Linked DNA regions of Homo sapiens: regions 1 and 2 are each linked to region 3. The links come from fine-mapping of genetic effects on gene expression. A gene starts in region 3. Each other region holds a variant in brackets. All regions are shown on one strand. Distances are between the middles of the regions.

Region 1 (4,156 bases), 34 kb before region 3:
AGTCCCAGCTACTTGGGAGGCTGAGGCAAGAGAATGGCATGAACCTGGGAGGCAGAGCTTGCAGTGAGCCAAGATCGTGCCACTGCACTCCAGCCTGGGCGACAGAGCGAGACTCTGCTCAAAAAAAAAAAAAAAAGAAAGAAAAGAAGAAAAGTAAAGAAAGTGAAAATGGGGACAAAACCTTTACCCTAAAACCTTATCAAGAGGATTGATAAAATATAACAGGTGTAAAGTCCTGCCATGATCCCTGGCACATAGTAGGTACACAACAAATGGCTCTTGATACCATCATCGTTGTGACTGTCACTCTTCTCCGCCCAGGCCCAATCCCAGTTGGTAGACCCTTATGTCAAGGGCTTGGCAAAGTTCTATGACCTCTACTCTCCAAGCTGGCCTGCAACTCTGCAGGCAGTTAGGTCTGTTCACCTCACTCCAGAGAAGTCGGCCTGCATCCTAGAGGCTGTGAAACCCAGGCAAAAAGAAGCTCTGCTCAAAAGAGCTCTTCCGTTAAACATAATCTCATAGAAAGATATTTATTCACGTGGAAAGATGTTCATGAAAAAAATAGCTGTATTGCTCCAATTAAAAAAGAAGTATGTGTGAGTGCGTATGGGTTTCTTTGTATATATTTATAGAAAAAATACTGGAAAATATATTAGTCAATGTTCTTAGTATTTATCCTGGAAGAAGATGGGATTAGGATGCTGGTTATTTTCTTCTTTTATATATATATATATATATCTCACATATGTGTATGCTGGGGGAGAGGGAAAGTGAGAGTGAGAGGGAGAGAGAGAAATATTTTCATCTAACAGTTGACACCAGAATCCCTGGTAGGGAAAATACCACTATGAGATGCTGGGAGACAGGAGAGAGTATGAGGAAGTCTCCGGCCACGTGCAAAACCGTGGCTGACAGAAACTCCCCAGGATGGGGAAGCTGAAAGCCCTTTGAGAACCATCACATTCCACTTGGAACTGTTGGCACTGCCCCACAGGGACATTTCCTTGGCCTCGCTGCCACCCGCCCCATCCTCAGCAGACAAGGCTGTATCCTGGGCGTCCTCTGTGTGGTGTTCTGTGGCGTTATTAGGGTGAGTCAATGTTGTGGGAACAGAAACGACAGCACGTACGAGCAGAACCCAAGCACCATCGCAGCCAGGGGGCGTGCACCTGGGGGGCGTGCACCTGGGGAGCGTGCACCTGGGAACCTGCAGGGCCCCAGAAGGGCTGTGTGCCTTCCAGGCGTGGAGTGGGGAGCCCACCTGGCGGTGCCAGATCTCACGAGATGGGGACCCCAGCTGGCACTGGGTGGCATTTCTTCTTCCCTTGCTCTACTTGGAGCATATGTTGTTCGTGGAGCCGAAAGGAACGTAGCAAAAAGAGTGTTCCCAGCCCTCCCCGGCCCCAGCCGCTGGGCAGAGGGCTGCATGCTGGCTGGCTGGCCAGGCTGGGGCAGCCTGGCCTCCTCGGCCCCTACGCTGCACCCACCTTCCACTTCCTGGAGATGCACCCACATCTCCAGGAAAATTGTTTCAGAAAATGCCTACAACACAGCAGAGAGTGGAACAAACAGGGTCCCAACGCATGTCTGCGCTGTGATTGTGACCATGTAAGATAATATCTGCATGTGCCAGGAGGGGAGAGAGCAAATCATTACAAATCACTGATGTGTTAAGGGCGTGGGATGGCGCCTGACCTCTTCCTCTTTTTGTGATTTTTGTTGTTTATACAATAAAAACAGGAGGAAGTGGTAAGAGCTGTTTGGTCAGATGAAGGAGCTTTCTTCATTCTTCGCCAACTTGTGCCGTCACTACCCCTTGTCCCAGAATGAGGATCCATGCCAAGGAGGGGAACAGGGCATGGGGGGCACCTGACATTCGTATGCCTTCCAGGAGCCCTGCACGTGTCATCTCTTTTCAGCTTCAGAGAAATTCCATGAGGTAAGAATTGTTATCCCCATTTTATAGATGAGGAACTTGAGGCTAGGAGAGTCCACACAGCTGGTACAAGACTGAGCCAGACAGACCCTGGTACAAGACAGACTCTGCCTAAGGCCTGAAAGAGGTGGAGGGAGCCGGGGGCCCCGGGACTCACTGTGTAGACAGATTCTGAAGGATGCTGCTTGGGGCTGCTGGCAGATCTTGGATCTGGGCACTTCCTGGTGGGGTCCTTCCCTGGACCCCGCATCCGCTTCTGTAGGGAGAAAGGAGTCAGGGCCAGGGATGAGTGGCTCTCGTCTTCCTCCCCGCACAGACCCCCCAGGGGAAAGGATGGCAGATTGTCATGAGGTCACACAGAGATTCATCACTCAGTCCCTCCCACTCACCCTCTCCAGGGAAACATGGCAAATGCCTACAAGACCTGCATCAAGCCATTCCTGCACCTGGAGACACAGGAAATGGAAAAGGCCCACACGAGGTGATGTCCCTGGACAGAGCACCTGGCTGGTAGGGACCCAAGCTACTGG[G/A]ACCAGTGCCAGTGGGGCAGGGCCCCAGGGACCGAGCCAGCAGCCATGGGTGGGCCCCTAGTGGTGCCAGCCAGGTCCAGTGTCCAGTCTTCCTCTGCTGTCACTGGCTCTGGCCTCGAGCGAGCCAGTTCCCCTCTGGGCCTTGGTTTTATTTATTATTATTATTATTATTATTATTATTATTATTATTATTATTATTTGAGATGGAGTCTCACTCTGTTGCCCAGGCTGGGGTGCAATGGTGCAATCTCAGCTTACTGCAACCTCTGCCTCCCGGGTTCAAGCGATTCTCCCGCCTCAGCCTCCTGAGCAGCTGGGACTACGGGCATGTGTGCCACCACGCCCGGCTAATTTTGTATTTTTAGTAGAGATGAGGTGTCACCATGTTGGACAGGCTGGTCTCGAACTCCTGACCTCAGGTGATCCACCGCCTTGGCGTCCCAAAATGCTGGGATTACAGGTGTGAGCCACTGCACCCGGCCATGGGTCTTGGTTTCTTCAGCAATAACCCTCTTTTGTGAGACTGATGCAAAGTTACAATGAGGGCACAAGGAGTAGGTGCCTGGTGCTTAGGAGGTGCTGCTTAGAAGGCCCTTGCTCAACCAACACACACTTGATAGCACTGGCAAGCCAGGCAGTGTGAGGAGGTGGGCACCGTCCCTACCCTCCTGGAGTTTAGGGACCAGTGAAGAGATGGAGGATGAACCAGTGGTTTTGCCGAAACATGGTATGTGGGTTGATTGCCAGGCACAGAGCCTCTGGCACATGAGGAGGAAACCAATGCCCCACTGGGCAGAAGCGATATTGAAGGTGAAATCCTGAGGGCAAGAAGTTCATTTAGCAAAAGAGGGAGGAGGGAGCCTCAGGTAGAGGGAACAGCAGGTGCCAAGGCCTGGAGGTCTGGAGGCACGTGGAGAAGGTCAGCATAGGCCAGGCACGGTGGCTCATGCCTGTAATCCCAGCACTTTGGGACTCGGAGGCCGAGTCGGGTGGATCACCTGAGATCAGGAGTTTGAGACCAGCCTGGCCAACATGGCAACACCCCATCTCTACTAAAAATATAAAAACTAGCTGGGCATGGTTGTGGGCGCCTGTAATCCCAGCTACTCGGGAGGGTGAGGCAGGAGAATCGCTTGAACCCAGGGGGCGGAGGTTGCAGTAAATCGAGATCACACCATTGCACTCCAGCCTGGGAGACAGAGCGAGATCCCATCTCAAAAAAAAAAAAAAAAAGAAAGAAAGAAAAAAAGAGAGAGAGAGAGAAGGTCAGTGTGTGGCCCGAGAGAGGAGCCTGCCTGGGAGGGGCAGGCGTGGCGTGGCCGTGCTGGCTGCATGAAGAGCATAGGAAACATCTGAGGGCTCGAAGTGGGAGCGCCAGGGTCAGAGCTGTGCTGGAGAAAGCTCCCGCTGGTCACAGTGGAGGCTGGGCCGGGCCTGCTGGGAAGGTGAAGGCTGGGGAGTCACGAGGCGGTACAGGCAGCCCTCTGGAGGCAGAGGGAGGTGGCCTGGACATCCCCCCTCATTGCAGGCACCACACGGCCACTGCTGACAGTGGAGCCACAACTGCCTCATCTCAGGGCAGAAGCTAATTAAAAACCCTGGCCTCCTGCCAAACCCCAGCCCATTTACTGCGGGATTAGCTGCTGAGAGCTACTTAACTCGCAGGCAGAAGCCGGCGCCACCCCCA
Region 2 (4,156 bases), 52 kb before region 3:
CTCAGCATCTTGGGGAACAGCAGCCATAGATGGAAGCATGAATGGAGCTGGGGTGACTTTGGGCCAGTAGGAGCCAATCAGAAATGAGCTGGTGGACTCCATGAAGACAGGACTGTCCATTTCTTATTCCAGCCACAGCACTGGGCTTGACACATAGTTGGAGCGGGACAAATGTTGTTAAAAGAATGAAGGATGGCCAGGTGTGGTGGCTCACACCTGTAATCCCAGCAATTTGGGAGGCTGAGGCAGGCGGATCACTTGAGGTCAGGAGTTTGAGACCATCCTGGCCAACGTGGTGAAACCCTGTCTCTACTAAAAATACAAAAAATTAGCCAGGCGTGGTGGCACTCATCTGTGATCCCAGCTACTTGGGAAGCTGAGGCAGGAGAATTGCTTGAACCTGGGAGACAGAGGTTGCAGTGAGCCAAGATTGCACCACAGCACTCCAGCCTGGGTGATAGGAGGGAAACCCTGTCTCAAAAAAAAAAAAAAAAAAAAAAAAAAAAAAAAGCCAAGCATAGTGGCTCACACCTGTAATCCCAGCATTTTGGGAGGCCGAGGTAGGTGGATTTCTTGAAGTCAGGAGTTTGAGACCAGCCTGGCCAATATGGTGAAACCCCATCTCCACTAAAAATACAAAAAAAATTAGCTGGGCCTGGTGGCACGTGCCTGTAGTCCCAGCTACTCGGGAGGCTGGGGCAGAAGAATTGCTTGAACCCAGGAGGTGGAGATTGCAGTGTGCCCAGATCACACCACTGCACTCCAGCCTGGGCCTCACAGAGAGACTCCATCTCAAAAAAAAAAAAAGAAAGAAAGAAAGAAGAAAAGAAAAAAAAAAGTGAAGGAGTGGTAGGAGTGGTAAGAGCCCTGAATGTGAGACTAAGGGGTTGAGCCCCGATCCTATGGACAGTGGAAACCACTGTGAGTTTTGGTATAGGGTGTGAGGTAGGGGTCATGTAGAGGTTTGGCTCTCCCAGCACCAATTGTTGAAAAGACTGTTCCCCATTGAATGATGGTGGCCCCCTTGTTGGAATGAATTGACCATTACCATAAGGTATGGCAGGCTTTTGAGAGAGGAATCATGTGGTCAGATATGTATTATAGAAAGATCAGGTGAGACTTGTTTGGACTGGGAATGGCTGGGAGGAGGAGGGGTTGGAGGGAGGCTCTTATGGGTGGACTTGATGGCAGGGGGACAGAAGGGGCATCTGGGGAGAAGAGACATCCCTGGATCAGCCCATGGCGGGCAGCAAGGTACAGGGCTATGTCCTGAGCCAAGGCCAGGATCTGGCCCACTTGGGCCTGTGGAACTCACTGGGGGATGGGGATGGGGCAGTCAAGGGAGAGACAGAGAAAATGCCCCCACTCCTCGGCCCCTCAAGGTCCTCAAAGTGGTAAAATAAAACCCACTCCAGATATAGCCATTTGCAAAGTCAGTTTTCAGGTAATGAAAGGATTGTAATGGAAAAACAATGCCAATTACAGCAGCATTATCCGGGATTATAAAGCTTCTAAGAGGCGGCTCACACCTCCAGGCATGCTGTGCCTGGGAATTTCCAGGGTAGACTTGGGATCAGAGCATACAGGCTGCCAGGATCCAGGCCTCACAGTGGGCGTGGGCTGCTGGGGAGGCCCAACCCCTGGGGCTCTATGGATCTGCCTCCATTTCCCCAAAGAGATAGAATACCGGGAGGCAGGAGGACCCCCCCAACTTCACACACACACACACACACACACACACACACACACACTTCTGAGAAATTGGATAAGAGGAATGTGAGGCTGCCAGCCCATCTCTGAAGGAAACCTGTTCTTCTGTGGGCTTCCCTACTCCTGGGGACACCACATCCCTCCATGGCTCTTTCTGCCTCCCCCATCACCTCCCCTACCTGGCCTTGGGGACAGCAGGACTGCACACATGCCCTTGGGGACAGCAGGACTGCACACACGCCGAGGCAGCCCAGCGTTGCTCCTCCTGGGCTGTGTGACCTGGAGCCAGTCAGCTGTTCTGAGTGGTAGCTTCTGCTTCGATAAAATGGGGAGATCACCCCTGCCCACCATCACAGACCTATTTTCAGGATTAAATGAAATATTCTAGATAAAGAGTCCGAGGAATAGAAACCAGTCCAACCTC[G/A]GGGCCTGGCGATTTGGTGGTGACTGTTAGAACAGTGAACTTCTATGCACTGGGTCCCAGGAATCCCTCCTCATTTCCCATAGGGAAAGTTTTGCAGATGTGTGTGTGTACAAGGATGTTCCCTGCAGCCCCTTATGTGAGGTTGAAAAATCATAAACAACTGAAAAGGCCTTCGATAGGGGGCCTGATTAAATTAGGATCCATCTGTCCTGCAGGATCCTTTGCTGTAATTGGAGTCTGGCAGCTCCTGTGTGCTGTCTCCGGCAGATCCCACCACGTGGGGCTGCATCAACAAAGCAAGTGCAAACAACACCTACAAAATGAATGCATCGCGGCTGTTCGGAAGCCCGCACGGCGCTCCACATTTTACATGTTCACAGGTAGACACCTAGATGCCATAAAAGCAGCGACGAAGAAAACACTCCCAAATGACCCGATTGGTTACTACTGGGGAGGGGACGGGTATGGAGGCTGGGAGGTGGCAGGTGCATCAGAGGAGTTTCACTTTGCTGTAGTTTTAATGTTTCACTGTAACATATGCTTCTGTCACCCACATATGTCACCTCCAGACACACACAAAACACACGCCAACACCAAGTTCAGAGAGTCTGGCCTGACCCGCGCTCAGTCAAGGCTGAGGCCATCATTCTGACCACAGGTCAGGGAAGGGAGACTGGGGAAGCCCCCTCAGGTGGACAAATGACATCCCCTGGCATTGCAAGGAATGGAGTGACGCCACTCAGCCTGGCTGGACTGAGCCAACGGCCCACCTCTCCTGCATAAGCTGTCTGCCAAGAAAACTATTGAACTACATAAAAATCCATCCCTGAAATCCCAGAGGCATCTTTAGAATGGAGCATGGACTTTACATTAGAATGTGCTTTAACAAAAAAAAAAAGAGAGAGAGAGAGAAAGAAAAAGGAAAAGCAGGTTTTGCCTGTAACTTGAGTTCAGGTTTGTGACACTGGGTGGCCAAAGAGCACTGCCTACCCTGGCCGAGGCCACCAGGCTCAGTTCCTGCAATATTGGCTGTGAAGGGAACCCCAGCCACACCGGGTTCAGCGCAGAACCAGCACATGTTCCCATGGAAACTCTGCTGCCAGAATCCCCTGGAAATGTTTGCTGAGGAGGGGCCACCGTTTACCGCACCCACTGCAAGTTCTGGACTGGTGGTAGAGGCTGGGCACAGACTGACCTCCAGAAGAAGTCCATGGGCCCTCTGCTAGGGTGGCACCAGACTTCCCTGGTCCCACAGGACAGCCAGTGGCCTCCTAGCTTAGTTCTGGGCCCCCGCCTGCAAGCACACGTGGCAAGGAGGGCTTCAGCAGGCTCGCAGAACCGAGTGGCAAGGCCCCTGCTCCCAGAAGCTGGTTTCCCAGGATGATTTTCTCAAGCAAGTGCTGACAGAGCAGGAGTCAAGCGGGGGTGGGGTTGGAGGCTGAAACCCATTGAAGGGGTCAACTTCCTAGAGGCAGGCAGGGATGCCTGGGGGTGCCAGACGTGGCTGAGATGTTTCTGCAGAGGGGAGGTTGGGAAGACCTAGGAGGGCAGGGCAGGCTGGGCCGGGAGAGATGGTGGGAAATCCCACCAGGTCAGGGGCCAGTGGGCAGAGGGAAGCATCAGCTGAGACCCAGAGACAGGGCTGCCCTGCTGCGGTAGGGCCCAGGGGCAGGGGCCTGCAGGGGCTGCCTGGGGCTTCCCTTCCCCACCCTAACTCCAGTCCCCACTCAGGACTGCTCACATCCGTCCGTCCTGGAAGGTCCACAGCTCCCCTTCACCTAGGCCTCACCTACTCCACTCAAGCCACCCCATCCCCCTTAGCTTTTCCCCTCCAGGCCCATTCATTCAGCTCCTGCTAAGCCAGCACCCTCCTTCCCTCACCTCTCTGCTTACCTTGCTCCCACCCCCAGCTCTGGGCAGCCCTGGCCTGTCCATCTGATCGTGCTACCCCGTAGGCACTCCTTAAAGGCATGGCTGCAGAGAGCCTGGGCCCAGCTCCCAGGGAGGCCTGCCTCTCACTTA
Region 3 (4,156 bases):
GGTTTGGAAGATGTGGGAGGGGCAAGATTCCTTCCAGCAAACCCTCAAAGCTCTGAGACGAGAAGGCAGGGGTGTGACATGGAGTGACAGATAGATGAAGGGGGATGCACAGGGGTAGGACAAAGAGCGGGTTGGGGGTTGGGCACAGTGGCTCACGCCTGTAATCCCAGCACTTTGGGAGGCCAAGGCGGGTGGATCACCTGAGGTCAGGAGTTCGAGACCAGCCTGGGCAACACTGTGAGTCTCTATCTCTACGAAAAAATTTAAAAAATAGCTGGGTGTGGTGGCACACGCTGTGGTTCCAGTTATTCGGGAGGCTGAGGTGGGAGGATCATTTGAGTGAGGGAGGCAGAGGTTGTAGTGAGCTGAGATTGCACCACTGCACTCCAGCCTGGTGGACGGAGCGAGACCCTGTCTCAAAAAAATAAAAACAGGACGGGCACAGTGGCTCACGCCTGTAATCCCAGCACTTTGGGAGGCTGAGGCGGGCAGATCACCTGCGGTCAGGAGTTCAAGACCAGCCTGGCCAACATGGCAAAACTCTGTCTCTACTAAAAATACAAAAATTAGCTGGGCATGGTGGTGGGCACCTGTAGTGCCAGCTACTCGTGAGGCTGAGGCAGGAGAATCACTTGAACCCAGGAGGCAGAGGTTGCCGTGAACCAAGATGGCGCCATTGCACTTCAGCCTGAGTGACAAGAGTGAAACTCTCAAAAAAAAAAAAAAAAAAAAAAATCATGGGTGGGGGTTTGTCTGCTGCTCCAAGGGACTCTAGGACACCGTAAGGGTGTTTTCACCTCTTGTGAAAGAACAGTTTCTCTTTTATGTAATGTTTGTTGCAATACCGGGTGGGAGGGGGTGGCACTGGGAATGTTTTGTTATAGTTGAGACTGTTACAAAAGAGCTTTTCCCCAGTAGCACCCCATAAAACCTCTTACTGCTCGGTTACCAGGGTGTGCTGGGTGTCTTTTGGGGAGGAGGAACCACACAAAGGGAAAGGATGGGAATTGGGGGGAAATTAAATTAAAAATGACTGTAGTTGAGACACATTGACACTAACAGGCTGCATTTCCGGGGTCTGGCCGTGTTTGCACCAACTGTCTGGGGTGTGGGGCGAGGCGTGCACAGGATTAAAGGAGATGGTGTCCTAGGGCTCTGGGCTGCAGCCTGGGGAGGTACACACAGGTCAGCCTTTGCCTCCCCAGGGTAAGTTTCCGGTGAAGAACATTCTTTACAAGTAAGAGGATCCTCTGAGCCTACTGGCCGAGGGGCCCAGCTTGGGGCTGAGGCTGGCCTGGGGCTGAGGCTGGCCTCTACTTACCGGCTAGGTCTTGAGCAAACGAACTGGCTTCCCTGGGCCTCCTTTTCCCTGTCCTTAAAATGGTGCAGGTGAGGACAATAGGAGCCCCAAGGGGTGCTGTGAGGGTGGCCAGTACGTGCCCTGCTAAGGGCTCCATAAAGCCTAATTTGTGGTCATGAGAGGGGGTGCAGCAGGACAGGGTGGGGGCAGCTCTTGAAAGCCCCATAAACTAAGAGAATAGAAAGGAAGGCACCCTGTCTCCACAGTGGAGGCCACCCCTTTGGCCAGAGGGAGGGTTGGCTGCTGCCCGGCCAAGGAGGGGCAGAGAGAATCTGGCAGAATTCACTGAGCCCTCGTGCTGGCAGCCCTGGAATGGGACCCTCCTGGGCCGTCCCTGGCCTGATGAACTGGCCCTGAGGCTACCTACCCCACAGCTTGGCTCGGATCCCGGCCACCCAGCTTCCAAGAAAGCCTGGAACCAGGAAAGGAGCGCCGCTGGCGTGGAAAGACACACTTGCATCCTAAAACACTTGGCCTCTGGTTGTGTTTCAGGAACTGGGAGGTGAGACCCTTTCTGGTGACTGACAGTTTTGTGCCTCTGGGCGCAGAGCCCTGTGGCTGGCCCTGGTATCCCCCCCTCCCCCCTCTCCCCGCTCTCCCTGGCCAATGCCAGCAACAACCCAGAGGGTAGCCCCACCACTTGCCAGGTTCAACGCAGTGTCCCCCGCAGCAGCCACGTGAGGTTCCTCGGATGGGGAGCTGTCCCTCCCCCCTGCCCCGCCCCTGGCCCCAGCCACACAGCGCCCACCCTCCTTGTTTAAGGGCCAGGAGGCCAGACTGCTGGGGCAAAGCTGTCACAGCAGCGAGGGAGAGAGCGCTGTCCCCCTCCCCTTCAAAAGCCACCTTGGCAAGGCATTAGCTAAACATCTTCTCGGTCCCAGAAGGCTTCCCCTGTGAAGTCTGCAGCGTTCAAACGACAACCAGCAAATCCCCAGAGACAGGTCCCTGGGAATTAGCTGCGCCGGGCGGGATGAAAGCCGCTCTGATGTTCTGGAGCGAGAGAGTAGAGAGAAGGAGGAAGACAGACACTACCTGCCAGTCGCAGGGTCCCGGGCAGCAGCAGCACGCCAAGGAGGAGCCAGGGGGCTGCGGGGAGCCCAGGAGGGCGTGGGAGGCCTGGCAGGGCCCGCCACCTCACAGGCTGGTTCTCCATCTGGGGGCCTGCTTGTCTGCGGCGACTCTTTAGTTCACAGGAGGGGACGGCCGGCGCTGACAGCTTCCCCTTTGCTTTCCCCACGAAGCTCCTCCCTGGCAGCCCCTGACCTTCCGCTCAGAAGCAAAGCTGGAACAGCCCAGCAGGGTGGCCGCCAGATGAGGAACCTGGCACTGAGACTGGTCCAGGCCACACAACCAGAAGAAGAGCTGGAGACGGGACCCAAGCCTCCCCACTCCAACCCCTGGTGGGCTTCACCCTGTCTCGGCCCCTTTCCAGCAGGGGCCCCGTCCAGGAGACACTGGTAACTGTGCAGAGGGATCATGGGATTTCCATGAGTGACTTCGGGCCTTGGTTTAGCCTCTCACTTCTGAAACACTTTTAAAACGACCACAAGCATGTTCACACAAACTTCTCTAAAATATTCTGAGAATCCCTTAATAATGTGTTTACCAAAGGTAGGTTTTTTGGTGAGGGGTGGTAGGGAGGCTGGGGTGAAGGGCAGGAGCCTCATGTTCCCAGCCCTAGAGAGGGCCAAACACCCAGGGCAGGTGAAAGGCAGGCTGCCCATCATTCACCCAGCGAGAACCTCTGTGGGTCCCCTGCAGAGGCCCAGGAGACGCCTCCTCTCTGGTCCATCTCTAACGTCAGCTCCTCCCTGTGGCTGCCCTAAAGCTTAGCTCACTCGGCCTCCCAACTGTGAGACCCTCGAACTGCTTCCCCATTGGCTGCAGGTCACAGCCCCTGCTCTCACTTCTAGCAGCATCAGCCGGGGACAGGAATTGTTTGCTGCCGGGACCCCCTTCCCCAGCAGACTGGGAGCCCCTCACCCTTGGCACCCACACATCTGCCTGCGTGTCTGGAGTGGCAGAGGAAAGGGGCTGGGGTGTGGTGATGGCTGGTGGAGCTGGAGGCACCTGGTACATGGAAGACGCAGGCGGGAAGGTGGCTGAGTTTCAGCGCATGCTGAGCGCTTACCTCCCTTCTCTGCAGGTGTCCCTTCACTCACCAGATAAATGTGATGATCCCAGTTGTACAAAAGAGAAGACCTCGGCCCCAGGAGGCAAAACAACATGCCTAGGATCAGGGCAGGTCTGTGGGGCGGGCATTTGAACTGCCAGTGGTATGATGTCCGAGCCTTCTCCCACCCTGCTACTGCCTGCTCAGGTGTGTCCAGCTGCAGCCCCCGGTGACGGCATCATGAGATCCATTTCAGTTCTTTGCACACATGCTTTTCCCTGGGCTGCTCCAAACATGAACAGTGAAAGCCTAAAGACGTTTCCACCAATGCCACGAGCACTGGGAGGCTGGCAAGAGCAGGGGCCGCCCACCAGGGGAGGAAGACATATGAACAGGAGAAGTTTCCTACCGCGCAGGGGGCAGGCGGGGACCCCAGTGTTATTGACTGTTGATCCATCACAGTGATACATGCTCACATATGTCACAGTGAGATGCAGACCCGCTGCTTCACGCTATTCCTGGCTCCTGGGAGTAGCAGGTTGTCTAAGCACCTTGATGCCATGGTGATAGACCTCGTGTCAATGCCTCAGGGTACACGGGGAGCATTGGAAAAGCATCGGTCTGTGCCTCTACAAGTCTCATTACGACTTGGCACTGGGAGGCAGCTGAATGCCAAACTGCCT

Evidence for each region. PIP is the estimated chance that this variant, and not a neighbour inherited with it, causes the effect.
Region 1: its variant is the best candidate, but not a certain one, in a credible set for the expression of NFAM1 in whole blood (INTERVAL, PIP 0.58).
Region 2: its variant is the best candidate, but not a certain one, in a credible set for the expression of NFAM1 in whole blood (TOPMed, PIP 0.71).

The regions. Positions count from the first base shown.
Region 1 is chr22:42,395,762-42,399,917 of GRCh38, forward strand. NFAM1 (NFAT activating protein with ITAM motif 1) reads right to left here. Exons shown (of 6, transcript NM_145912.8): 4 at 2,097-2,195. Among named protein-coding and RNA genes, the nearest start is that of LINC01315, 29 kb to the left of the region's middle. RefSeq lists a silencer at 1,062-1,356. The variant G/A (reference allele first, on the strand shown) is at 2,470.
Region 2 is chr22:42,377,774-42,381,929 of GRCh38, forward strand. It overlaps NFAM1 (NFAT activating protein with ITAM motif 1), which reads right to left. Exons shown (of 6, transcript NM_145912.8): 6 at 2,634-4,156. Among named protein-coding and RNA genes, the nearest start is that of LINC01315, 11 kb to the left of the region's middle. The variant G/A (reference allele first, on the strand shown) is at 2,135.
Region 3 is chr22:42,429,845-42,434,000 of GRCh38, forward strand. It overlaps NFAM1 (NFAT activating protein with ITAM motif 1), which reads right to left and starts at 2,559. Exons shown (of 6, transcript NM_145912.8): 1 at 2,393-2,559. The coding sequence starts at 2,513.